Linked DNA regions of Homo sapiens. The protein of the gene in region 4 purifies or fractionates together with the protein of the main gene of each other region. This does not show direct contact. Each region holds a gene or a part of one and is shown on either strand. Other genes may lie near its edges. The genes, in order: PABPC4L, ECT2, AASDH, GPSM2, TTF1, CALD1 and LSM11.

Region 1 (4,117 bases), on a different chromosome or scaffold from region 4:
AAACAATATAAAAGAGATTTTAAAAGTTTTTAAACAGAATTTCTATAATCTGTATGTATGATTTTCATAATATTAGCATCTGGTAAAAATTTAAGATAATATATTAAGCCATATAGGTATGAAGAGATTTAAGACCAGGCCAACTTTGGATCACCTGAGTTGATAACAGATTTATAACTTAAGGAATGTAGAAGTTAAGGTTTTACAGTGCAAGTTACAATTTAGATTAACTAGTAAGTACCTGAATTATAGTCAACTAATGGAAAGAACAAAACACATAAAGCCAGTTTTTAGGCAACATTAAAAACTTCCATCATCTTAATTTAAACCATCCGAAAAACAAGCATGTCAGGATATAAATTTAAAAGAAATTCAACTATATCTGACTATTTTAAGCATTAATTCAAAATGAAATTAGGTCTTTAAATTCGTACTATAAATTTCTAAAAGTTTGATTTCTCAAAACTTGGATGAAAAATTAGAAAATTTCTGTTGGTAAAAATACTTTGGAATCTTTAGTTGTAAGAACTATTTTGAGCATATTTTCATAGAAGAAATTAAAGCTAGCAATATTACTAAAATAATAAATATGCAATAAATTCAAATAATTACCTCATTTCATTTGGTTCAAATGTAAAAATATATCTATTTATACTTATTGCTATGAACATATCAAAATAAGAAAAATGTGCAATATTAAAATTAGAAAATGTGCCTCTGTAAAATGAACTAAGCTCCATCTATTTTTCCACAAAAGAAAAAAAATGGCTTTGTATAAAAAACGTTTTATCATAAAGTTTACTAAACTAAGCACCCATCATGTGGAATATGAAATTTACTGAGGTCAATTCAGGCAGAGATCACTATCATTCTCCCACCTGCTGCAGATACTAGCTGGAAAGGTACGTTTTTCTTTCCTAGTGTCTCTGGGCCAAGGCAATGCTAAGAGGTTTGGAGCCCAAGATGCGGCCATTCATCTCAGTCATTGCTTTAGTAGCATCCTCAGGAGAGGAGAAGCAGATCAAGCCAAACCCTTTGCTCTGCCCCTCTTCCTGCATTACCTTAACTCTGCTAATTGATCCAAATGAAGAAAATTCGTTTCGTAGTTTTTCATCATCGATGGTGTCATCAAGGTTCTTAATATAGAGTTTTACCCCCTGGCACCCACGAATTCGTTCCCTTTTCAGCTGCTCAAACATTTGCTTTAACTCAGCCTGTCGCTCGACTTTCTTTTGAGCCCGGCCTACAAAAATCAGCTGCCCATTTATGTCCCTTCCATTCATTTCTTCAACAGCTTTCTTGGCAGCCTCATGGCTATCAAAACTCACAAAGCCAAAGCCTTTGGATTTCCCACTGGAATCTGTCATCACCTTAACACTCAGAGTTTTGCCATATTTGCTGAAAACGTCCTTCAATCTCTCATCATCCATGTCACCTCCAAAGTTTTTTATGTAAACATTGGTGAATTCACTGGCTTTGCTTCTGAGTTCAGCTTCACGATCTTTTCGGTTTTTGAATCTGCCAACAAACACCTTGCAGCCCTTGAGTAGTTTTCCATTCATCTCCTCAATGGCCCTGTCTGCAGCACTCTGGTTCTGAAAGTGCACAAATGCATAGCCCTTGGAGCCTTGATCATCACTCATCACCTTGGAGGAAAGGATCTTTCCAAAAGCTGAAAAATGTTCATAAAGGGTTTTGTTATCGATAGATTTGTCCAGATTCTTGATGAATACGTTCCCAATTCCAGATCTCCTCAAGTAGGCATCGCGCTGAGACCACATGAGACGGATGGATTTGCCTTTTATGATGTCAAAGTTCATTGTGTCCAGCGCCTTCTGGGCATCAGCCAGCTGCAAGAAGTTCACGTAGGCATAGCCCAGAGAGCGGCGGGTGACCTGGTCCCTGCAAATGCGGATGGACAGCACAGGCCCCACAGTGCTGAACTTCCTGAACAGCAGGTCCTCGGTGACATCTGCATGTAAGTCACCCACATACAGGGAGGCCATGCGGTACTTGGCTGCTACATTCATCTCCTTGTCCTTGCCACTGTGAGTTTGTCCCCTGGAGTTCTTTGAGCAATCCCTGTGGGGGGATACTAGGTCACAGCTTTGGCCCGGTTCAAGTGTGGAGGCCTCGGGATCACCACACAAAGGCCAAGCAATGGAGTTCAGACACGACTCCCCCAGCTCAGGCAACACCCTCATCCAAAAGTCCCCACAGCCACCAATCTGGCCCTCCTAGGACGCGGCAACAGAACTGTGAAATCGCAAAGAGAGATTATTAGGACAAGACGTTCCTTCCCCTCAGATTTGTGAGAAAACTTCAAGTGGCGGGCTGGCCCTCCATCTGAGCATTCTCCACAGACGCCCTGGTCGCTGGTTTCTGAATAAAAATAGGCCTCGCTCAGAGTGGTTTAAAGTTACAGCCGCTCAGGGAAGAACTCCACAAGCGGAGGCGTCAGAGGCCCCAGCCGTGGAGTATGGGCTGCGAGGTTCTGCCCGGCAGAGACCCGAACCTGCCAGGTACCGGGTTCTGCAGGCGCCGCCGCCGCCGAGGCGCTGCCGGCAGCGACGCGGGCCAAGGGCGTCCTGAAGACCTAGGGGGCCCCTCCGACCTCCCGACCCGCGCGGCGCCCGGAGAAAGGAGGCGTGGGGGAAGGGGAGGCTGACAGACCGACGGACTGACGGACGCGGCGAAGCGGGCGGCCAGGCGGGGGCTGGGGGCTCACCGGCGGTCGTCTGCGGGCGGGCGGGAAGCCCGGAACTCGCGCGCTGAACTTCCCGCGCACTCGCTGCCAAGTGGGATGTTTTCTTTTTAATATTTTTTTTAAGAACGTTTTTCTTCCCCCCGCCCCTATTACACGTTTCCCACCCTCCTCAGATGGCTAAGCTGAGAAGCAGGAGGCGGTGACTGGGGTGGAGAAAGGCAGCCGAGGGGAGTGGCCCCAATAAACCCACCCGCCCGCAGGGCTTTGCATGGGTCTGAGTGAAGGAGCCTTTCCAAATGTGGATCAGGGCCTGTCACTTCCTGGCTTCAAACCCTCCAGTGGCTTCCTTTGACTTTTGGATAAGGTCCAACATCCGCACCTTGTTCTATAAAGTTCTGCAGGATTCCTGAAATGTTCCAGCCTCAACTGCTGCTTAGTTCCCCTTACAAAACTCCAAGACACACTAGCGTTTTTCAGAGCCAACTTTATAAAAATGTGTTCTTCGGAAATGAGTTAAAATGCTCTTTCCAAATAGATGTTTTTTCTAAACCCCTCTGACAATTTAGGTTTCCCTCTTAGAAACTCTAACACTACCCTGTACTTGCCGGCTTTTGTCTAATTACAAAATATTGCATATTTCGTAACAATAGAAGCCATGTGCACTTTATTCTCAGGGACTTGCAGACAAGGGATGTGCAGTATTTATTGAACAAATCTTAGCCTCAGGTTAGTTTTCACATCTAGTTAAATGGAGGCGGTGGCACTTATCTTAGAGAGTATTTTACGTGTGAAATGAGTTAATAGATTTGGAAATGGATAACACAATATCAGATACATAAGTGGTTTCCAGTAACAATGATTTCATTTTCTTTAGCATTAAATAAAATTCTTTAGTATCTAATGAATCCTTAAAATTTGAATCATAATGCATCTTAGAGAGTCAATAAGTTACTGTCACGGTAGCATGACCTTGATTCTCCAAGAGTGCCAGAACCTATGAAATTAACCTGTGGTCTCAGTTGTACTTGTTTACAGAAACAAAAGCCGGGCTGGATGCCAGTAGCCACAAACAAGCCACGAGATAAAAACTCAGCTTGGCAGTGCTACTCAGACAGACCTGAATCCTCACTTCCTTATCATATTAAAATCTCTGCCCAGTGGGGAGAGATGCCCTTTGCTAGGCACATATAGTAAGTGCCCAGTGCAAAAGAAAGAACAAGACTGCACACATTCTAGTTTTCTCTGGAAAGTCCCACCTCTTTCCAGGAATTCGCATCCTTAGTCTCCACCTTCATGCTCTAAGAGACCTTAAAAATCCCCCTTCTGCACACACCTGGGGAAAAGGTGAATGGGAAGCTCACCTTCTCTACTCTTTGAACAACAAATAAAGTTTCTGCTCTGCTTAACAGA
Region 2 (3,500 bases), on a different chromosome or scaffold from region 4:
GAAAAATAGCTGAGAAATTCATTGTTGCTGTTGCATAGATTGTATAGGGACTGGGGTAGTTACAGATGGTGAGGGTGAATAGTTAGGCGGGGACCAAATTGTGAACTTGGTGGTGAATTTGGACTTGGACATATAAGGAGTACTCATGGAAGTTGTTAAGCAGGGAAGTGATATGGTCACATTTGTATTTAGGTGCATATTCCTGAAAACCATGTGGAGAGTGATTTCTAAGGAAACTGATGGTAAAGTTGTGTGGAGCTGGTTTATTAGACCAAGTGACCATTGTGTCATTGAACGTATAGAGAAGGGGGGCCAGATTCCAGAGATACTTGAGGTGGGATTGATAGGAATTTTGGGGAGGGAAATGTGGGAGAGGAAAAAATTAGGATAGATCTCAGATTTTTGGCTAGGATTTTTGTGGGAGGTGTGTTATGGTGGTGTTATAATTGAATATAGGAAGAGAAATTGGTTGAGGGCAAAGGTGTGGAGAAGGGAGGTAGAATAATATTTATGACTACAGTTGAGTGTTTGTTGTATGTCTAGTAATGTTCTATGTGCTTTTGATACATTGTTATTTTTATTATATTCCTGTGAGTCAGGTATTAGTATGTTTATTTTACAGAAAAAGAAACTGAGGCTCAGAGAAGGTCAGTGACTTTCTTTGGTTCATTAAAAAAATGGGTAATAATACTTTTTATAAATTCTAGGTAAAAAGAGCCTCTAATACTTACTTTTGCCCAATGACCATGTTTATGTATTTTTATTCAAATTTTATTTTTTCAGCTGATTTAGAAGAATACAAATCATGGCTGAAAATAGTGTATTAACATCCACTACTGGGAGGACTAGCTTGGCAGACTCTTCCATTTTTGATTCTAAAGTTACTGAGATTTCCAAGGAAAACTTACTTATTGGATCTACTTCATATGTAGAAGGTAAACCTGTTACCTGCTTTAAAACAATCAATTTCTATTTTAATTCTAAACTTATTAGTGACTTTCTTAAGATTTAATTTTAATACCAACTGTAATGCTAGAGCACAGGTATTAAGTAAATATTTGTTTACAGAATCCTTTTACACTATGTCATTTTTCTGATTATTATTTGGGTTATTTGTATGCTTTGCAGCTTTGAAAAGGGAGGCATCTTAATTTGGATATTCCTTTTTCTGTATGTGAGGGCGGTCTAGCTACAGCATTATTAGCTAGAAGTTATACAGTCATGACTGGTTAGGTGAAAGCTACTTTTTCCTTTACCACTTTATAAATGGGTTTTTCCTAAAATTATATGCACTGTTGAGGAGGATGACTATGTAAGATAGCGCATTCTCTGGCTAGGAGGAATGCTGATGTTTGTATACCCTGCTACAATATGGTTTCTCTTTCTCTAAAGTGATATATAGCCAGATATTTTTGTAATAAGTTGGGAGTTGAGTCCTATTAAATTTAGAGAAAGTTATGATTCCCTCAAAGATGTAATACATACTAGATATAGCCAAAAGAGCGATAAGGACCTACTGATTGTGATGTTAATACATGATAAACATTGAAACATTTTACATTTTAACAGAAGAGATGCCTCAGATTGAAACAAGAGTGATATTGGTTCAAGAAGCTGGAAAACAAGAAGAACTTATAAAAGCCTTAAAGGTACGGAGTTTTAGGTTTTAGTTTTTTTTGTAATGCAATTTTTCTTCCATCAGTGTGTAAATAGTTTCATAGCTTTCTTAACCTCATACTTAAGTCTCTTTTCCACAGACTATTAAAATAATGGAAGTCCCTGTTATAAAGATAAAAGAAAGTTGTCCTGGAAAATCGGATGAAAAATTAATAAAAAGTGTTATTAATATGGTAGGTCAAAGTAACTCATTGCATGTGGCATGCTGCACTTCCCTTGATTGTATTATTCTACTTTCTGGTGATTGGAATTAGGCACAAGGTGTATTGTGTGCAATCTGAAGCTTAATGAATAGAAACTGTTTTATACTTTTTAACTCCTTAGCTTCTTTTTTCTCATTCATTTTATATTTAGTCTAAATTCTTGCTGTATTTCCAAAATTATAAATCACGGTAATTTATAATCAGGGAATTTGCCTCAGCATACGAAATAATCTAATTCTGGAATCCAGCTGTTTTAGTTTGCTAGGGCTGCCATAACAAAATACCACATAGTTAATTGCTTAAACAGTAGAAATTTCTTTTCTCACAGTTCTGGAGGCTAGAAGTCCAAGATTAAGGTGTGTGTAGGTTTAGTTTCTCTTGAGGCCTCTCGCCTTGGCTTGCAGTGTCCTTTTGCTGTCCTCACATGGCCTTTCTTCTGTGTGTCCTTGCATCCCTGGTGTTTCCTCTTATTGGGACACCAGGTTGGATTAGGGCCCACCCCTATTATCTCATTTAACCTTAATTACCTCTTTAAAGTCCTTATCGCCAAATATAGTCACACTCTAAGGACTTCATTCTTCATTCTAGGTTAGGGCTTCAACATGAATTTTGGGGGTACATAATTTAGCACATCACACTAGCCTTGCAAATAAAATTCAAATAATTTACTGACCCATTTTGAGTTAAAAAAAAATTTTTTTTTTAATTTAACACGAGTTACAAGAGTTATATAGGTACTTTAGTATCTTCATTATTTTTCGTGGATGTATAAAGTGTTTACTGTAAGTAACTTGCCTTTTTATATCCTACATTTGCCATGCTGCAACTGCTACATATTGCACATCTTTCTCATATATCTTACATATCTGCTAAAATGATTATGCTGATTTTCCTTTCTGTAAGTATTAAGTGCTATAGTATTATTTTCCTATTTTTCTGAAGATAGTTAATTTGTACAATAAGAACTTTATGTATGGTATCATTTTCTTGGTCAGTAGTGGATATCTTTCTAATGCATCTTGATATCAAAATGCATGTACTTAAAAACTTTAGCATTCTAATTTTATGGAACTTATGCATACTTGATGATTTATGACTAATAAGTAATAAGTCAGAATTATGCCTTTATAATACTGATCTTTAAAATTTAAGAACTTAATTTGAATGGAGATATGTATATGTAAAAATGTAAGTACGTAAAGAAATATGGTTGTTCATTAAGTGTAATGCTGATTATTGTGTGATAGAAACTTATTTTCTACAAATATAAACATGTTAAAGTTGATATTGAATTGATTGTTAAGCCTTATTTAGAGAGACAGATGGATTATTTGATATATAAATAATTTTTATTTCTGCTAACTATATGATGAAAAGGACATTAAAGTGGGCTTTGTAAAGATGGAGTCAGTGGAAGAATTTGAAGGTTTGGATTCTCCGGAATTTGAAAATGTATTTGTAGTCACGGACTTTCAGGATTCTGTCTTTAATGACCTCTACAAGGCTGATTGTAGAGTTATTGGACCACCAGTTGTATTAAATTGTTCACAAAAAGGAGAGGTAAGCATATACATTTATTATGACTTTTCAAGTTAAAATTTTTATTAATGAATTTTAATT
Region 3 (3,500 bases), on a different chromosome or scaffold from region 4:
TACCATAATTTCATAAGTTCAGAGATTCTTCATTTATATATCTTTGATATAATTATTTTTGTGAGATATTATTGTAGAGAAGTTTTTCCCTGTCCCTCCACCGAGCTCTCTAAAACTCCCTCTCCCCCTAACACTTCTGTATATACACAGGGTTCTGTGCTACAAATTGATGTTTAGATAAACTTCAGTGAAATGACTCTTCAGGAATTGGTGCATAAGGCTGCCTCCTGTTATATGGACAGAGTAGCTGTATGTTTTGATGAATGCAACAACCAGCTTCCAGTTTACTACACCTACAAGACTGTGGTTAATGCTGCTTCTGAATTATCAAATTTTCTGCTGTTACACTGTGACTTTCAAGGAATTCGGGAAATTGGTCTCTACTGCCAACCTGGGATAGACTTACCCTCTTGGATTTTAGGGTAATATTTTTTAGAACTGTAAATTTGATGTTACTCCAAGCTAATGTAAATTTTTAATAGAGTATATTGCAAGTTATTGTTCTGTTTACTATTGGACTTTTCTATATTGTTTGGTCAATTGTAGAGAGACTAAAGAAGTTTGCATTTCCCCAGTATTATTTTTATATTATTTAAATTAATTATTCTGAGCTTATTTAGGAAAGACTAGAAGCTTTCACTAATAGAACGTATAAGTATCTCCAAAATGTAAGGGCTTCATTAATCTGTTAAAGGAAAACAATTATAACAATTTATAACACTTTGTTGTTAGATAAAAGAAAACAGGATTTCACAGATAACATGACTATGTTTTTTGTCCGCAACTGAAATTTGAGGCACTAAGGTATTCAATAAATCAGTAAATTAGAGTTTTGGATAATAGTTGATATAGATTGAAATATGAACCCATTAGAAGACACTATTCCAACAAATATTTGCAAAATGTTCAATCATTTAAATTGTTCTAGAATGTTATCCTCATATAGTGATTTCTATTCTAGAACTCTGCAGTAAGTATAAACTGCCAAAGAAATAGTTTATTCATTCTATAATATGTGTCTTAGTAAATTAATTATATAAATATAAAGCAAAAGATGTTCAAAAATTTACTTTTGGCCAGGCACAGTGGCTCACACCTGTAAATCCCAGCACTTTGAGAGGCTGAGGCTGGAGTATTATTTAAGGCCAGGAGTTCGAGACCACCCTGGTGACTTCACAAGACCCCATCTCTATAAAACAAATAAAAACAACAACAAAAATTTACTTTCACTCAATTATTGACGAAATTTATTGAGAATTTACTATGTGCAAAGATCTAGTGTCCTTAAAGTATACCTGAAACTACTTAAAATGCTTAACTTTAAAAAAATCTTGTATTTCTCTATATTAAGTGATAAGAATTTAACATAGTAAATACTCAGGATTTTCATTAAGAAAAGATAAAATGACAGTGTTTATGTATTTATTTATTTTTGAGATGAAGTTTCACTCTTATTGCCCAGGCTGGAGTGCAACGGCGTGATCTCGGCTCACCGCAACCTCCGCCTCCCGGGTTCAAGCAATTCTCCTGCTTCAACCTCCCAAGTAGCTGGGATTGCAGACGCCCGGCTGATTTTGTATTTTTAGTAGAGACAGGGTTTCTCCATGTTGGTCAGGCTGGTCTCCAACTCCCGACCTCAGGTGATTCGCTCGCCTCAACCTCCCAAAGTGCTGGGATTACAGGCGTGAGCCACCGTGCCCGGCTAAAATGACAGCGTTTATTACCAACTATGTGTCAGTGAAAACATTGGAAATTTCTGATCAGCAATAAAGTGCTCCGGAAACCATTTTTATGCTGCTACAAAAAATAAATAAAGTGCATAGAGAAATAGAAATGCTTAAACAAATACTAAATCAACAGACATTCTATGCTGACTGTGTACTTTTTTCTTTAGAATTCTCCAAGTCCCGGCTGCTTATGTACCTATCGAGCCAGATTCACCACCGTCATTATCAACTCATTTTATGAAAAAATGTAATCTAAAGTATATCCTTGTTGAAAAAAAACAAATTAATGTAAGTCTGGATGTTTCAATTGTTTTTTGCCTGTATTACATTTATTTCAATTGAAACATTCCTTCCTTCTCCCATCTGGATTCCTAAGTCTGCTAAATGTGGCAAGGTTTCTCAGTCTTTGCACTATGACATTTTTAGGGTTGAGTAATTGTTGTGAGGAGTGTTCCGTATATTATAGGATATTTAGCAATATATTTGACCTCCACTCGCTAGACCTCAGTAGCACCTCCCAGTCATAACAACCAAAAATCTCCAGACATTGCCAATTGTCCCCCAGAGGGGCTCTCCACCCCTCACACTCCATTGTGAGCCACTATTCTGTAGTATGAACAGATCTGTTAGCCTTATAATAATATATTATGCATTGTTTTGAATTTCTCTTTCCAAAGTATTTCCTATACTGCAAAATTTTATAATACTTGGAACTTTCATATTTATGGCAATTACATTGGTCAGCAACACTGAAGAATTATAACTAAGCTTGCATTTTGAAAAAGAGACTGGTACTTAGAGGAGATCTTTCCAGAAAAGTAAATTTATTGTTTTTTTATTTTTAAATGATTGCCAACCAAAGATATAACCAAGAAACTCTGTTTTTGGGGCAAGAATTGGTGTTATATCTTCAGCAAGATGCAGCCCATGCTTCATTGTTTATTTATTATTTATAAAATATTGTTTTACTAAAGGGGAAGAACATTATAAAAATATATTCAATTTAGCCTGTTTTTGCCCATTTTCTATATGAGCCAGTTTGTATTGGGGTAACTTAAATGCATTCCCTGCTTTCACCCCCCCCAACTGTGTGTGTGTGTGTGTGTGTGTGTGTGAGAAGTGTCAAGAACTTGAGGTATATGGGGGACTTTCTAGAGACTCAAAGGGTTTTTTTTTTTTTGAGCCAGAGTCTCACTCTGTTACCCAGGCTGAAGTGCAATGGGCAGTGGTGCGATCTCAGCTCACTGCAACCTCCGCCTCCCAGGTTCAAGCGGTTCTTGTGCCTCAGCTGCCCAAGTAGCTGGAATTACAGGTGCATGCCACCACACCCGGCTAATTTTTGTATATATATTTTTAAGTAGAGACAAGGTTTCACCATGTTGGCCAGGCTGGTCTTGAACTTCTGACCTCAAGTGTTCTGCCTGCCCCGACCTCCCAAAGTGCTGGGATTACAGGCATGAGCCACCACACCTGGTCTGGTTAATAAATATTTTTAAAATAATTACTTATTAGTGTGTAGCCGAAATTTCCTCTACTCCTCAAATTGGTTATTGCATTGTTCATAAGTAAGCAAAACTGAAATGGGGATGTGATGTTTATTTTTCTTAGCAATCTTAGTGAAAATTTTATAAAAGGTAGCTGAGTATCAGTATTAATTGTCAATGTCAAGGTATTCTTTATGACCAGTAGGAGTTGGACATAGCAAAACCCAAAAAGGAGTTGGGCGCAGCAAAACCTTGCTTCCTATCCCATGATTTTGATGATGGTGTAAGT
Region 4 (4,051 bases):
CACTGCAACCTCCGCCTCCTGGGTTCAAGCAATTCTCCTGCCTCAGCCTCCCGAATAGCTGGGATTGCAGGCGCCCACCACCAGGCACGGCTAATTTTTGTATTTTTAGTAGAGACGGGGTTTCACCATTTTGACCAGGCTGGTCTCCAACTCAGGTGATCCCCCCGCCTCGGCCTCCCAAAGTTGCTGGTATTACAGATGTGAACCACCGCGCCCGGCCGGTATTTTGTGAAGAACAAACTATAAGGTGACTACTATTTTGGGGTCACCTTGACATGGAGGAGAGGTGAATGGAAATAAAACTTATTCTTCCCAGTGTCTTTAGAATGTAGGCGCTGAAACTGAGTGAAACTGAGTAAAACTGCCACCCAATTTTCCTGGGAACCAGCGATTCTGTAGTCAACAGAAGTTTGCTTTTCCAACAGCTGGAAACGCCAGGGTTGGGCACAGCCTCAAGAACTGAGGCTGCCTTGTTCAGACTTTCACACGGTCCCTCTGTTCCTTCCACAGAGGCCTCTTTTTCTTCTATATCCCGCATCTGCCGCTTGGGACACTCATTCTGTAGCGCAGCACCAAGTCTTCCAAAAAGGCGGCGCTGGTTTTGCGCTCCTTTTTTAAAGGGATCTAGGCCAGCCTCTATCTGAACTCTGTACGATGTTTTTTGTTTGTTTGTTTTGTTTTGTTTTTGAGATGGAATTTCGCTCTTGTTGCCCAGGCTGGAGTGCAATGGTGCGATCTCCACTCACGGCAACCTCCGCCTCCCGGATTCAAGCGATTCTCCTGCCTCAGCCTCCTGAGTAGCTGGGATTAAAGGCATGCGCCACCACTCCCAGCTAATTTTGTATTTTTAGTAGAGACGGGGTTTCTCCATGTTGGTCAGGCTGGTCTCGAACTCCCGACCTCAGGTGATCCGCCCGCCTCGGCCTCCCAAAGTGCTGGGATTATAGCCGTCCGTCACAGCGCCCGGCCAACTCTAGACAATATTTATTGCTCTACTTTTTAGTGTCTGAAGAAGAAAGAAGAGGACAGGAAAGAAACTTCAGTCTGAGGGTTGAGGACACGTCCCGGAGCAGAGGAGGACCAAGCTCCCAAGCCCCCTGTCACCTTGACACGCAGACGGTTCCCCAGGACTGCGAAGAGGGGGGCAACCAGCGCCCCGCCCCGCCCCGCTGCGCCGCCCGCCATTGGCCGGTCCGAAAGACGCGGGGCGTTGTCGGTTTGAATGAGAGCGCCTGGAGCCGGGGCGCAGGCGCAGAGGAGGGCGGTGTTGAGACCGGCGGAGCGGCGGGACCCCTAGGTGGCGGAGGGACGCTCCGGGAAAGCGAGGGGCGCTACGAGCTCTGGCCCACGTGACCTGCCGGGGGCGGGAGCAGGGGGCGCGCCGGCCTCCTGCGGTGCCCCTGCCTTGGGGAGGGGCCGTGACCACCCGTCTGTCGCCCGAGGCGGCCGCCGCTGCACCTTCACCGCGTACCCGGGACCCGCCCGCCCGCGGGAGGTGAGCGCTTCCGCGACGCGGGTTCTGAGGCGTTTGAGGGGCTCTCGGAGGGAGGTGACAGGGAGGGGTGCGTGTGCGTGCGTGTGGGGCTTCTGTGTCCAGAGGTCTGGGGGTGACGTCCTTTGTTTTGGGCAGGAGGCGGGCTGGGGGCTTGCGGGACCTGTGGGCGCTGCGGGGACGCGGCGTCGATGCTCAAGAAACCAGAAACTCGGCTTGAGGAGTTGCTGCTTTTTTGTCGGAAGGTCTTCAAATGAGAGTAAAGCGTTAAGAGCCTCACTCCTGAGTCTTTTTTTTTTTTTAAGATAAAAACTATACTAGAGTCCAGCGACTTCTTACCACTCTGAATGTGAGTAACAAATTGTGAATCAAAGCCCGAATCCCCGTGGAATTCATTCCGAGGCTGATTGCAATCACTTGGAGTCGGGCGCGTCCTACCTAAACCAGGCAGTTTATGGCAAATACCTGCCTTGACCGTGCTTAAATTAGTGAACTTTTGGGCACCAACTGGTCGATTTACCATAGAAATTGGTAGTTGCTGCAAAAAGAGTAAGTAAACATAAAACGTTAAGAAAACTCTTTCCTGAAATCTATAGAATACCTTCGAATAAAAAAAAATCTGTAATTTCCTTGTTTTAATAGTAACCAGTTAGAGCATTTGAACTAGTAGCATTTGAACTCTGTTAAAGAAAACGAGTAAGGATGGAAATTTTATTGGCCTTAATGCATAATTTAACCACACCGTAGAATTAAACGAAGTAGGTTCTTGGCTTTCCTTTCTATCGGGTTTGCATTGGAGCGTTCGTGGGGTGTGTTGGAAGTCAGCAGGACCAACAGAGCTGAGTTTTCAAGCTGCCACTTTAGAAGGGTGTACCGAAGATTTCTGGCCTGATAATAGCCGGTGTGATTGCTTCTGATAAATACCACTTTTGATTGGGTTCTCACTATTCAGGAGCAGCTTTAGTTGATTGTTTAGAAGTGAATAAACAACATTAAAAAGGGTAGATCACTGTTGGTTGACATGGTGTGTGTAAGGAGAGGGGGGCCTCAGGGATTAGGGGTGGTCTCACACCTACTTCTCTTTACAACTACCACGGAGTCGTTTTCGCAAGCTATTTCCCAGGCTATTACTTATAATTTAAGTATTGGAGCGGTTTCAAAGTAAAAAGTTGTGTGATGTTGTTGTAGAGGCATGTCTCCAAAATCCTCTCTGGCCAGATAAGCAGTTTAATTGTATTTTCTTACATTCTTAAATCAGATATTCGGTGTTACAAACATATTTTAATATAGATCTGAGACTTGCTTACTAGACTAATTAAAACAGTGATAAGATATAGTAGTTTTAAAAATGACCTTTTCATAAACATAAAATATTTCTAAGATCTATCTTTAGAAATTTGTAATTAGTTCTCTGGAATTTTAAAATGGAAAATCTGACATAGATTTAGGTTATTCTAAATTTATTTGAATATATATTAAATATGTCTATTTTATAATAACAGTTACTGTTATTACTACAGCACTATGTTGAGTACTTTTGTTATGTATCAGAGCCAGGTGCTGGGTCAGGTGCTTTATAAATCATGTCTGTAATTATCACAGCACATTTTAGGTAAGTGTCATTATGCCCACACCAACTGAGAGTTTAGCGTAAGATCATATAACTAATAAGTCACTGTGCCGAGATTCAAATCATGGCCTGATCCCAAAGCACATGCTGTATTGCTTCTGTGTGTCTGTTTAAATCTCTGCTGTGTCTCTGGATTCCATTTGTAGGGACAAGTTCTACTTTAAAGATGCCTTTAGGTGCTGTGTTTTGTTGTAGCTTCGCAGAAATATTTCAATCTTTCTGTTGGAACTATCTTGCTTCATTATTTTATAAATCATCTTATAAATCACATTATATTTTCAATATCTTCTTAATCATCTTTATACAAAACATAAGTGAAGAGTAAGACTTTTCTGAGTTTCTTACATAAATATGAATAGAATCTTTACTGTGGAGAAGAAATGTATTACAGTCCGGTTTTCTCACTATTGTAGGATTCTTTGGCCTCGTCATAATTCCTGTCTTCTTCCCAGGGAAGAAATTAAAGTTTGTTGGGCCTCTCTTATGTGCAAAGCAATGTCGTTGGTGTTGTGAGATGACAAGAAAATGCTTCCTATTCAGTAGTTGTTTCTGGAGTTTTTGTAGTATTTTTCTTTTCTCCCCATTCCTGCCTTATATGTTGCTGCTGGTTTATCTTCCTAGCAGAGATCCAACTTGGCTATTCCTTTGTGGGGAAAAAATACCAGCAAGGTTCCCCATTGTGTAAATAAAAGGCTGAGGCCGGGTACGGTGGCTCACGCCTGTAATCCCAGCACTTTGGGAGGCCGAGGTGGGCGGATCACGAGGTCAGGAGTTCAACACCAGCCTGACCAACGTGGTGAAACCCCGTCTGTACTAAAAATACAATAGTTAGCCCAGTGTGGTGGCACACGCCTGTAATCCAAGCTACTCAGGAGGCTGAGGCAGGGAGGCGGAGGTTGCAGTGAGCCGAGATCGCGCCACTGCACTCC
Region 5 (3,500 bases), on a different chromosome or scaffold from region 4:
GCTAGGTAGATCAGGTTTTCATGACACTAAATACATCACTAGTTGGATATGTTTTTCATTTTTCTTCCCTTTTTTTAGTGTCACATAGATCATCACGCCTCAGGTGTTTTGTGATTACAGATTTTAGCTAGAGCATAATACCTATGGCCCACCCACCTCCCTCCTATTTCAGTTTTCCAGTGGAAAAATAATCGTGTAAGGAAGTATTACCATACAGTCGAGTTGACCTTGGCAGGCATTGGAGGTGATATTATAGGTACTTTAGTAACAATGAAGTGAATTTTCCCAGTACATACCTTTTATCAATTCCAATTATTGAAAAATCAAAGGCTCAGAATTACTCTTCACCCACCAAATACGAGGTGCCTATATGCCAGGCATTTTTCTAGGCTCTGGGGATACAGCATTGAACAAAAGACAAGTTCCTTGCCTGGTAGAGCATCCATTCTGCTGACACAAATGCCAAGTTTTGTATAGTATAGAATTAACCTAAAAACTACATTGATGATAACGATATCAAACTAATAATAATTATTGACTACCTTCTGTATACCAGGCACAGAGTAGGAACTCACATTTAGTTCTGGGAAGAGACTGTAAACAAATAAGCTCATTTCAGATAGCATGGTACCAAAAAGAAAACAAAAATAGAGTAGAAGGGACGTCGGGGGCAATCAGATAGAGTGGTTAGGGAAGACTATGGAAGCAGAAGCGGTGGCAGGGTAGCCATGCGGGGATGAGACTGAAGATGTTCGGACAGAGAGTAGTGAATGCGGACACCTTGAGCCAGCACTGGCTGGGCACATTCAAGGGACTGGAAAGGGACCAGGTGGCCCAGAACAGTGAGTAAAATGACGGCAGCGATGGGCTGGGTGCGTGTGCAGGCCAGACTCCCACGCCTCAGGGGACTTCAGACAGTTGACAACTCAGCACACGCTCCAGACATCCAGGAGTTCCAGTTACCTTTGTGTACCCAATTTGGAACTTTGTAAACACTAGCAATTCTCTGGTTTTCAGCCCAGCTCTCACTTCAAAATCATCTGGGGAACTTTTAAAAAATACCAGTGCCACGTGAATGGGATTGGTCTGGTGTGGGGTCTGGCTTCGCATGAATGGGATTGGTCTGGTGTGGGGTCTGGCTGTCAGGATTGTTCAGAGCTCCAGGTGACTCAGATGTGTTACCCTGCCGAGACCCCGTGCTTTAGCGCTGGTTAAATGACTTGGTCGGTTCCCAGTTAGAACGTTTTAGTTGTGTGTAACAATTCAAATACAGAACTGAATATCATGCCCCACCCATAAGGAAAAAGGACTTGACTGTTCAGTTTGATTTTGCTGTTTTTCTGGAATAGGTAATAGATTACGTAGTCCAGAATTAAAGAAACGTAGGCTGGGCACGGTGGCTCTTGCCTGTAATCCCAGCACTTTGGGAGGCCAAGGTGGGCAGATCACCTGAGGTCAGGAGTTCAAGACCAGCCTGGCCAACATGGTTCAACTCCGTCTCTACAAAAATACAAAAATTAGCCAGGCATGATGGCAGGTGCCTGTAGTCCCAGCTACTCAGGAGGCTGAGGCAGGAGAATCGCTTGAACCCAGGAGGCGGAGGTTGCAGTAAGCCGAGATCATGCCATTGCACTCCAGCCTGGGCAACAGAGCAAGACTCCATCTCAAAAGAAAAGAAAGAAAGAAAGAAACCTGAAAGGAAACACAGTGAAAAGTGTCCCCTTACCACTCACCAGCCACGCGTAGCCCTACAGGAAACCAGTATCTATTTTCCGTAGATGGTTTATGCAAAATGTCTGCAGGATCTGAGTGATGTTCTGATGGCTAATGTTGGCTATTTATACCTACTCTCTTTTGTTACTGCTTGAATAGGAGTTACCAGAGATTGTCTTTTCAAAGCACCAGCTTTGATTGCGTTGACCCTATCTTGTGATTATTCTAATGTCAGCTCTTTATCACGCCCTCCCTTCAGCTCTCTTTGAGTTTATTTTGCTGCTGTTCTTCAACTTCTTGAGATGGGTTCTTAGCTCATTTTCCATTTTTCTTTCTTTGTAATATACATTTAAGGCCATATGTTTTCTTCTAAGTACTGCTTTATTAGCAATGCCCAATTATTTTTTTCAGAAACTTTATTAGGAAAATTTTAGACAGATACAAAATAAATGAAGCTTCATGTACCCATCACCCCAGTTCAGCAACTGTCAAAATCCAGCCGTCCTTATTAAACATCTACATTCACTCCCTCCAATTACTGTTATCTGTTTTGGTAAATTTTACATACTTTGCAGCCTTAGTACCATTCAAAATTCAAATAATTCTAGTAATTCCATTTCTAGAAATACATTCTACAAAACAACTTCACACATACATGAAATGACTTGTATACAGAGTAACTGACTGCAAAAGGCCTGTTAATAGGGGACTGGCTATATATGTATTTTACCCATATAGTGACATTCTTTATAGCTACAAAAAATCATGAGAAAGCCCCTCGGTGGTGGGGCAAAGAAAGCGCCAAGATACAGTCTTGGGTGAGGAAACACTGCGTGGTTGCAGGGTGGTGTGCCAGCGCCACAGAACAGGAAAGCTGCAATGTGTGTGTTTATTCGAGACTTCCAGTCTCTGTGCTCTGGACCAAATAAATCAGACCAGCCCTCCCTCCAGCCCACCTGCCACCGAAGACACCCAAGAAAGGCAAATGAAATGTATGCAAAGTCTCTTAAAGGCTTCAAAAAGCTAAACAAGTTGCAAGAGTAACAGAAAGAACCCCGCATCCCCTTTACCCATAGTCGCCTCTTCTGAACATTCTGCTACGTTCACTTTATCATCCCTCTCTCCCTCCTCCAAGGGAATACGGTTTTTCCCATAACCATTCAAGAGTTAGTGGCAGATACCACTTCCCAAGCAAGGATGTTATTTTACATAACCATAGTACAATCGAGAATCAGGAAGTTTCACATTGATATAGTACACCCTCTAAAACATAGTCCACATTCAGATTTCACCAGTTGTCCCAGTAATGTCCTTGATAGCATTTTCCCCCTTTAATAATTGTTCCATTTCCTTAGTGTCCTTTTTTTTTTTTTTTTTGAAGACAAGAGTCTTACTCTGTTGCCCAGGCTGGAGTTACAATGGTGTGATCTCAGCTCACTGCACCCTCTGCCTCCCAGGTTCAAGCAATTCTTGTGCCTCAGCCACCTAAATAGCTGGAATTAGAGGCATGCACCACCCTGCCTGGCTAGTTTTTTTTTTAATTAGTTAATTTTTTTTTTTTTGAGACGGATTTTCACTCTTGTTGCCCAGGCTGGAGTGCAACAGCGTGATCTCGGTTCCCTGCAACCTCCACCTTCCGGGTTCAAGCAGTTCTCCTGTCTCAGCCTCTGAATAGCTGGGATTACAGGTACCTGCCACCATACCTGGCTAATTTTTGTATTTTTAATAGAGACAAGGTTTCACCATGTTGGCCAGGCTGGTCTCAAACTCCTTACCTCAAGTGATCC
Region 6 (3,298 bases), on a different chromosome or scaffold from region 4:
CCTCCAGTGATCTGCCTGCCTCGGCCTCCCAAAGTGTTGGAATTACAGGTGTGAGCCACTGCGCCTGGCTGGATCTTATTTTATTTTAGCCTTCCTTCTGCTGATTTTTTTCACTTCCCTCTTCCTGTCTTTCTCCTTGATGTTCTCTTTTCCTGTCTTAACTTTTGGCCTTGCTTATAGCATTTAGAGTCAAGTAAGTTGCTTTGTTTTTTTCATTTTTAAGCCCCACTGTAAGAGCCAAAAATCTACAGTGTGTATTCCAGAACAGGCACATGCGACTGAATAGCTCAGTGAGGGCCACATCAATGTATGATGGTGAAGGAGGATGTTTATCTTTAGTTTTCTCCCATTTTTAATCTAGCAATCTCTATTTTCTCCCTCCTATTCTTACACCCCTACCCCACGAGACTTATCTGACCTATAGTCCTATTCTTACACCATTCTCTCCCCCTCAGCTAGTTGCTAAAAATTTTTGCCAAGCTATTAAGAAATCTTAAAGTGTTGTGAATTCCAATTTTCAAGGGTGTTCATTGTATTCATTTCTAAGGAATGACTGAGTAACAAGAAATGAGTTTGACAGTTTGGAGCAAAAGAGGTACCTAATCTGCTACCTCATAAACTCAGTTCTCGGTCTGGTGGTTATATTATTACTACTGTAGAAAGAAGTTAGTGGCACATGAAAACTCACACTGTCACCCTCCTACCTTGTACTGCCCTGGTGCTACATAACTCCAGGGAGTACCATTCATGTTTGTATGTGAGTGGTGTTCTCTGAGTCTGACCATTCCACATCATCTTTGTTCCACTTTCCAGAGCTCTGGCTAGGAGGAATGTTATCCAGAGAGACTCCGTTATACTGGTGATGATGGTCTATGGCCAGCTGACATCTGCTTTTCAGACAGGAACCTATATAAACACTGGGACTGCCATTCTGAGAAGTCAGATACCTCTCAGAGGTCTGAGAGGAGAGCCTTCTGCTGTCAATGTTCCTCCCACAGTGGTGTGTGGAGAATGTCTTCCTGGGAACCATTCCATGGGTTTGGGCTATTTACATTGCATGGCTGACAAACCTGCAATGCGCTAATAGCATAGGCTAGAGAGGTCATAAAAGCTTAGGTCAACAAGCTCATTCTTTGTTTAAAAAATAACAAAGAAAGTTCTTTTCTCCCCTGCCACCGAGAGAAAATTATACAAGGAATTGAATAACTATACATTTTCTCCTGAATATGCATCCTAAAAGAAAGTACCATGTATAATGGTTAAAAATGCAGGCTCGGATCAGGTGCTGGAGTATCAATGCAGGCTATGCTACTTATTCACTGTGTGACTTTGGGAAAGTTACTTCATCTCTCAATGCCTCATTTTTCTCAGCTGCAAAATGAGAATGATAAACTACTTACCTCACATGGTGACTGGAGGATCAAATGAAATAATGGAGGGTAAGAAGGTAGAATAGTGTCTGGCATATAGTGGGGTGCTCACTTGTAGCGCTAGTAGTTAGCAATGTGATAATTACCAGCAGGTACTTTTCATATGTTTAGCAATGACTTAGAAAGGCTAGTGGATTTTAATGGAATAAAAGCGCAATACGTAGCTAATAGTGAAGGTGGGGTAATATGTTTAGGTAGCTGCACCAGAACTAAGAGCATGAGAAAGTGGGAAAGGGAAGGTAATTCTCTCACTGCAGTGAATTGTAGTGATTCTCTAGTTGCCGTTGATGTGCTCTTTAGTCCTGAGTTTGCTTACGAAGTGCTTCTGTTTAAATCAACCCATAAGCAGCCTGTTCTAACCTTGCTTATTGTTGGTCTCCAGTTTCTCCCTTTTTAATTTTCTTTTTATTGAAGGAGAACACGAGGTCTATTACTTGAAATGGGGAAAGGCTACAGTTGGGAGTTGAATGAGCTCATTGTACCACAAAGGGTCCCATTTGCAGTGTAAGCATCATTTAGATGTTCTTCAGAGCCTCCTTTCTGAAGAATGACCATATCCTTTGACCAGAAGACTAAAAGTAAGAGGAACCCAATCATTCTTAATCATTCATTTTCACAGGGTGGTAAATGGTTGCCTTACTTTTGAATATTTTTTTTTTTTTTTTTGGCCATAGCAACCCTGAGTCTTAGGCTGCTGGCAGTGGCAATGTAATCTAAAATGGTTCCAGAAAGCAGTTTTGGAAACACTCAGGGAGACAGATGTTTTCCCCAAGTGATTTTTAAATGACTGTGGCACTAAGCTGGGACCTTGTAAGGAAACGTAGACCATGGTATCCCATACGGCCTTCTGCTGCCAATGTTCCTACCACTGTGGTGTATTGAGAATGTCCTACTGAGAACCATTCCATGGATTTGGGCCGTTTATGTTGTATGACTGACAAACTTGCAATGCGCTTTTCATTTCACTGTGTTATGTACTGGTCTTTTAGACACTGATGGGTGTGCAGGCAAAGATCTGTAGGTCAGTGATATTTCTCATCTGACTCCAGGACATTATACTACACCATACATCAGGAAAACAAACCTCTGAAATACTAGTCTTCCCAATAGATTACCTTAGTGGGGGAAGTGACCTTATCCACAGATTGCTTTTCCCAGAGGTTCCGCTTGCTGGATACGTCTCCTGGTCTCAAGTCCTGATAAAAAGGAAGCAGAAAAACATCGATAGGTGGCCATTTATATTTTCTAGCCAGCTCTAAATAAATGGCCACATCTATTGTTTATTTGAATCAGTTTGTTGTTTAATACACTTTACCCCAGTGATCTGAAATGGAATTGAAAGGACCATCAGCTGTTGTTTGATTTTTTTATTTTTTTATTTTTTTTGAGACAGAGTCTCACTCTGTAGCCCAAGCTGGAGTGTAGTGGCGTGATCTTGGCTCACTGCGACCTCCATCTACTGATTTCAAGTGATTCTCCTGTCTCAGCCTCTCGAGTAGCTGGGATTACAGGCGTGTGCCACCATGCCTGGCTAATTTTTTTGTATGTGTAGTAGAGATGGGGTTAGCTGTTGTTTGATTTTATATAGACCGTGACATGTCTTATGATATGAGAATGGGCTGGAACTATAGCCTCGGGGTCCTTGCCCTTTCCTAAGGACTTACTGTTTATTGATCAGTAAAAGTGAAACAGGAGCATGTTTAAAATAATGTAGCCTCATTTTAAATTTCTGCACTCTTACAAGTCAATAGATCATGGGTTATTTAAAAATGATTAATTTGGGGTTTGATAAGCATTTCCTGCCTCACAGATGAACTCAATTTGTACTCACCTCTTTCCCCCCAGCCCTTACTACTTTAGTGCACACC
Region 7 (3,500 bases), on a different chromosome or scaffold from region 4:
CTGCACTCCAGCCTGGGTGACAGTGAGACCCTGTCTCAGGAAAAAAGAATGTGTACGGCTTTCTTTTGGGAGGTTTTATATACCATAGCCAGCATATTGTGAGAGCTGAGTTAACATGAAATAATAAAAATAAAATTCATCTTTCCTCCCACGCTCTGAGAATCCTTCATAATAAAAGCTGAAATTTATAGTCTCAATATTCTTCCTATGAGTCATTATCCTGCTCTCTTCACATGATGCTTATTAGTAGTGTCATAGGAGCCAGATACTCAGCCAGGTGCCTTTTACACTGTCAGGGCTTGGGCCAGAACCAGTGCTTTTCCTCCCAGAAACACCAGTGAGTCCAGAAAGCTTGTGCATGGAGTAGCTTTGGTGGGGTCAAAGGCCTTTCTTTCTGACAGGATTGTACATGTTTAAGGGCAGAGTGCAGTTTGTTTCCTTTGAACATGTAAACAAGGTTTTTGTTTTTTTGGAAGACTCAAGCTGGATATGTGATTCATGAATTGTCTTAAGGCACAGAATTGAGAAGGATCTCGCTGTTAATGTATACATTTAATGTTTGCGTGCCCGTGTGTGTGTGTGTTTCTCAAGATGGAGTCTTGCTCTGTTGCCCAGGCTGGAGTGCAATGGTGCGATCTCGGCTCACTGCAACTTCCACCTCCTGGGTTCAAGCCATTCTCCTGCCTCAGCCTCCTGAGTAGCTGAGATTACAGGCATGGGCCACCATGCCTGGCTAATTTTTGTATTTTTAGTGGAGATGGGGTTTCACCATGTTGGCCAGGCTGATCTCAAACTCCTGACCTCAGGTGATCCGCCCACCTCAGCATCCCAAAGTGCTGGGATTACAGACGTGAGCCACCACGCCCGGCCAACCCCAAAAGTTAAGTGATAGTGCATGTTAAAATCAGTGACATCGTGGAATAAGAGATATACCGGTAGTGAAACATTTGGCTGATATTCATACATATGGATGATCCACATTCTGTTGGAATCTAGTCTTGTGTCAGTGTGTGTTGGCCGTACGAGCCATGTTGCCCATTGGACCTTCCTGTTCCAATAGTGAGATTGTCACTCTACCATGGGCCACATGTTGCTGGCCGAAGTTGGGTGGTCGTGGCTTAATTCTGGGAATGAGGGCAGATATTAAAACTGTCCTGACTGTTCTTCTCTTGTTTCAGTGCACGAAGGCAGCCCTCTGGGTGAACTCCATCGCTGTATCCGTGAGGGGGTGAAGGTGAATGTTCACATCCGCACTTTCAAGGGACTTCGGGGCGTCTGTACAGGCTTCCTTGTTGCATTCGACAAGTTCTGGAATATGGTAATTAAGCCTTTCTCAAGGGGCTGGAGAACCTCCTACAGATTATATCTTCTATAATATTTAAAGGACCTGAGTAACTGCATTAAGTAAAACCCAAAAAATAACTTCTTAGAAGAACTAGAATTTTTGCATACTTTTGGGCAACAACAAGAAAAGGTCTTTTTATTGCTTCCTTCTCCTTAAGGCAGTGGCTCTTAACCAAGGTAATTTTGTTCTTCCTTCACTCCCAGGAACATTCATCAATGTCTGGGGACATTTTATTGTCACCACTATAGGAGAGGGTACTACTGGCATCTAATTGGTAGAGGCCAGGGTTGCAGCTAAACAGTCTACAACACACAAGATAGTCCCTCAACAACAAAGAATTATCCAATCTGAAAAGTCCTTAGTGCCAGGGTTGAGAAACCCAGCCTTAAGGACCAATTATTTTATCGGTTTAGTAATTTTTAGTTGATTTTCTACCAACCATTCTTTCATTAATTAAGAAAAACATTTATTGACTTCCCATTTTGGCTGAACCCCATGCTAGGTGCAAAAGTTTCAGAAAGGAACTTGCACTTTACAGTACATGGGAAGGTAAATAAGGATAGAGGTGAAGCAGACATCAGTAAACAAAGCATTTTGCATGATGTCTTTTTTTTTTTTTTTTGAGACAGTGTTTTGCTCTTGTCACCCAGGCTGGAGTGCAGTGGCACAATCTCAGCTCACTGCAACCTCCGCCTCCTGAGTAGCTGGGATTACAGGCCCCTGCCACCATGCCCAGCTGATTTTTGTATTTTTAGTAGAGACAGGGTTTCACCATGTTGGCCAGGCTGGTCTTGAACTCCAGACCTCAGGTAATCCGCCTGCCTCAGCCTCCCAAAGTGCTGGGATTACAGGCATGAGCCACTGCGCCCGGCCACATGGTGGTTTTATAATGAGGGAGTGTGCCACACTTCCTAGCCTTCTAGAGGCTTACTTTTTTTCTAGACATTTGTAGGAGAGAAGGGATATGTAATAGCACAACTATAATTTGAGGTAGTTAAGAACTACTAGGCTGCACGCGGTGGTTCACACCTGTAATCCCAGCACTTTGGAAGGCCGAGGCAGGCGGATCGCCTGAGGCCAGGAGTTCAAGACCAGCCTGGCCAACATAGGGAAACCCCCATCTCTACTAAAAATACAAAATTAGCCAGACATGGTGGCACAAGCTTGTAATCCCAGCTACTCAGGAGGCTGAGGGAGGAGAATCACTTGAAGCTGGGAGGCGGAGGTTGCAGTGAGCCGAGATCATGCCACTGCACTCCAGCCTGGGTGGCAGAGCGAGACTCTGTCAAAAAAAAAAAAAAAAAAAAAAGAACCACCAGAGCTTTCTGGTGTTTCTTTTCCATATGGTCTTCTATCTCCAACTTTCCTTTTCCCTGTGCTTTATCCCCATCCACGCATCCTCCTGGATAAGAACAGTAGCTGCTAACATATATTGAGTACCTGCTATGTGCCAGGTACTATACTGAGGGCTTCATATATTATCTCAATGAATGAGTTGTGGGTACTATTACTGTTCCATTTCACAAATGAAGAAATTGATTCTAGAGAGATTGGAATGTTGGTCGCAGATCACACTGTTAGTAAGTGGAAGTGCCAAACTTTTTCCTCGGCCTAACTCCTAAAACCATGTTTTTAACCATTAGGGAATTTGAATCCTAGCATCATCACTTGGTAACTGTGTGACTGTAAGCAAGATAATTTCTCTGAGCCTCAGTTTTCTCATTTCCAAAATGCAGGGAAAAATGTTTTATTATGATCTTTTTACCTTTGAAGAATTGAAGAGAATGTGTTAGATGATAGTGGTGATTATAACAGTACTGTCAGCTTCTATTTGTAGGGTGATTTACACTTTTCAAAGGAATTTGTCTTGTACTTCTCATTTGGTCCTAACAGCTGTCCTGTCGAGGTTGCTCTCGGTGATGAGAACTCACCAGCAATTCTGTGTGTAACCCTGGTTAATCTCTGTTAATTGCTTTCATAAGACATAGAAACTGAAGCGGGTAAAGAAGCAGTAATGTTCCTCAAAGTGGGATCTAAAGCCATCCTGCATCAGAATCACCTGGGGCTTCTGGTTGAAACAAAAGGTTCCTGGGCTTCATCCCAGACCTACCAAAACAGAATCTCCAGCAGAATAGCTTTGGGTTCGTATTTTAAT

The links.
Region 1: the proteins of GPSM2 (region 4) and PABPC4L purify together in Homo sapiens (affinity purification with mass spectrometry; one large-scale study listed by BioGRID and IntAct). This does not show direct contact.
Region 2: the proteins of GPSM2 (region 4) and ECT2 purify together in Homo sapiens (affinity purification with mass spectrometry; one large-scale study listed by BioGRID and IntAct). This does not show direct contact.
Region 3: the proteins of GPSM2 (region 4) and AASDH purify together in Homo sapiens (affinity purification with mass spectrometry, with the first as the bait; one large-scale study listed by BioGRID). This does not show direct contact.
Region 5: the proteins of GPSM2 (region 4) and TTF1 purify together in Homo sapiens (affinity purification with mass spectrometry; one large-scale study listed by BioGRID and IntAct). This does not show direct contact.
Region 6: the proteins of GPSM2 (region 4) and CALD1 purify together in Homo sapiens (affinity purification with mass spectrometry; one large-scale study listed by BioGRID and IntAct). This does not show direct contact.
Region 7: the proteins of GPSM2 (region 4) and LSM11 purify together in Homo sapiens (affinity purification with mass spectrometry; one large-scale study listed by BioGRID and IntAct). This does not show direct contact.

The regions. Positions count from the first base shown.
Region 1 is NC_000004.12:134,198,990-134,203,106, forward strand, and holds the start of PABPC4L (polyadenylate-binding protein 4-like), read right to left. Parts: upstream 2,801-4,117; 5' UTR 2,729-2,800; exon of another isoform or gene 2,257-2,728; 5' UTR 2,205-2,256; coding exon of another isoform or gene 2,031-2,204; coding exon 918-2,030; 3' UTR 1-917. UniProt on the Homo sapiens protein: May bind RNA.
Region 2 is NC_000003.12:172,753,726-172,757,225, forward strand, and holds part of ECT2 (protein ECT2), read left to right. Parts: intron 1-783; 5' UTR 784-805; coding exon 806-935; intron 936-1,569; coding exon 1,570-1,649; intron 1,650-1,757; coding exon 1,758-1,850; intron 1,851-3,257; coding exon 3,258-3,440; intron 3,441-3,500. UniProt on the Homo sapiens protein: Guanine nucleotide exchange factor (GEF) that catalyzes the exchange of GDP for GTP. Promotes guanine nucleotide exchange on the Rho family members of small GTPases, like RHOA, RHOC, RAC1 and CDC42.
Region 3 is NC_000004.12:56,380,992-56,384,491, reverse strand, and holds part of AASDH (beta-alanine-activating enzyme), read left to right. Parts: intron 1-150; 5' UTR 151-192; coding exon 193-422; intron 423-1,894; coding exon 1,895-2,015; intron 2,016-3,500. UniProt on the Homo sapiens protein: Covalently binds beta-alanine in an ATP-dependent manner to form a thioester bond with its phosphopantetheine group and transfers it to an, as yet, unknown acceptor.
Region 4 is NC_000001.11:108,875,734-108,879,784, forward strand, and holds the start of GPSM2 (G-protein-signaling modulator 2), read left to right. Parts: upstream 1-1,251; 5' UTR 1,252-1,495; intron 1,496-1,797; exon of another isoform or gene 1,798-2,041; intron 2,042-4,051. UniProt on the Homo sapiens protein: Plays an important role in mitotic spindle pole organization via its interaction with NUMA1. Required for cortical dynein-dynactin complex recruitment during metaphase. Plays a role in metaphase spindle orientation.
Region 5 is NC_000009.12:132,382,841-132,386,340, reverse strand, and holds part of TTF1 (transcription termination factor 1), read left to right. Parts: intron 1-3,500. UniProt on the Homo sapiens protein: Multifunctional nucleolar protein that terminates ribosomal gene transcription, mediates replication fork arrest and regulates RNA polymerase I transcription on chromatin.
Region 6 is NC_000007.14:134,964,634-134,967,931, reverse strand, and holds part of CALD1 (caldesmon), read right to left. Parts: intron 2,627-3,298; coding exon 2,546-2,626; intron 1-2,545. UniProt on the Homo sapiens protein: Actin- and myosin-binding protein implicated in the regulation of actomyosin interactions in smooth muscle and nonmuscle cells (could act as a bridge between myosin and actin filaments).
Region 7 is NC_000005.10:157,750,212-157,753,711, forward strand, and holds part of LSM11 (U7 snRNA-associated Sm-like protein LSm11), read left to right. Parts: intron 1-1,178; coding exon 1,179-1,318; intron 1,319-3,500. UniProt on the Homo sapiens protein: Component of the U7 snRNP complex that is involved in the histone 3'-end pre-mRNA processing. Increases U7 snRNA levels but not histone 3'-end pre-mRNA processing activity, when overexpressed. Required for cell cycle progression from G1 to S phases.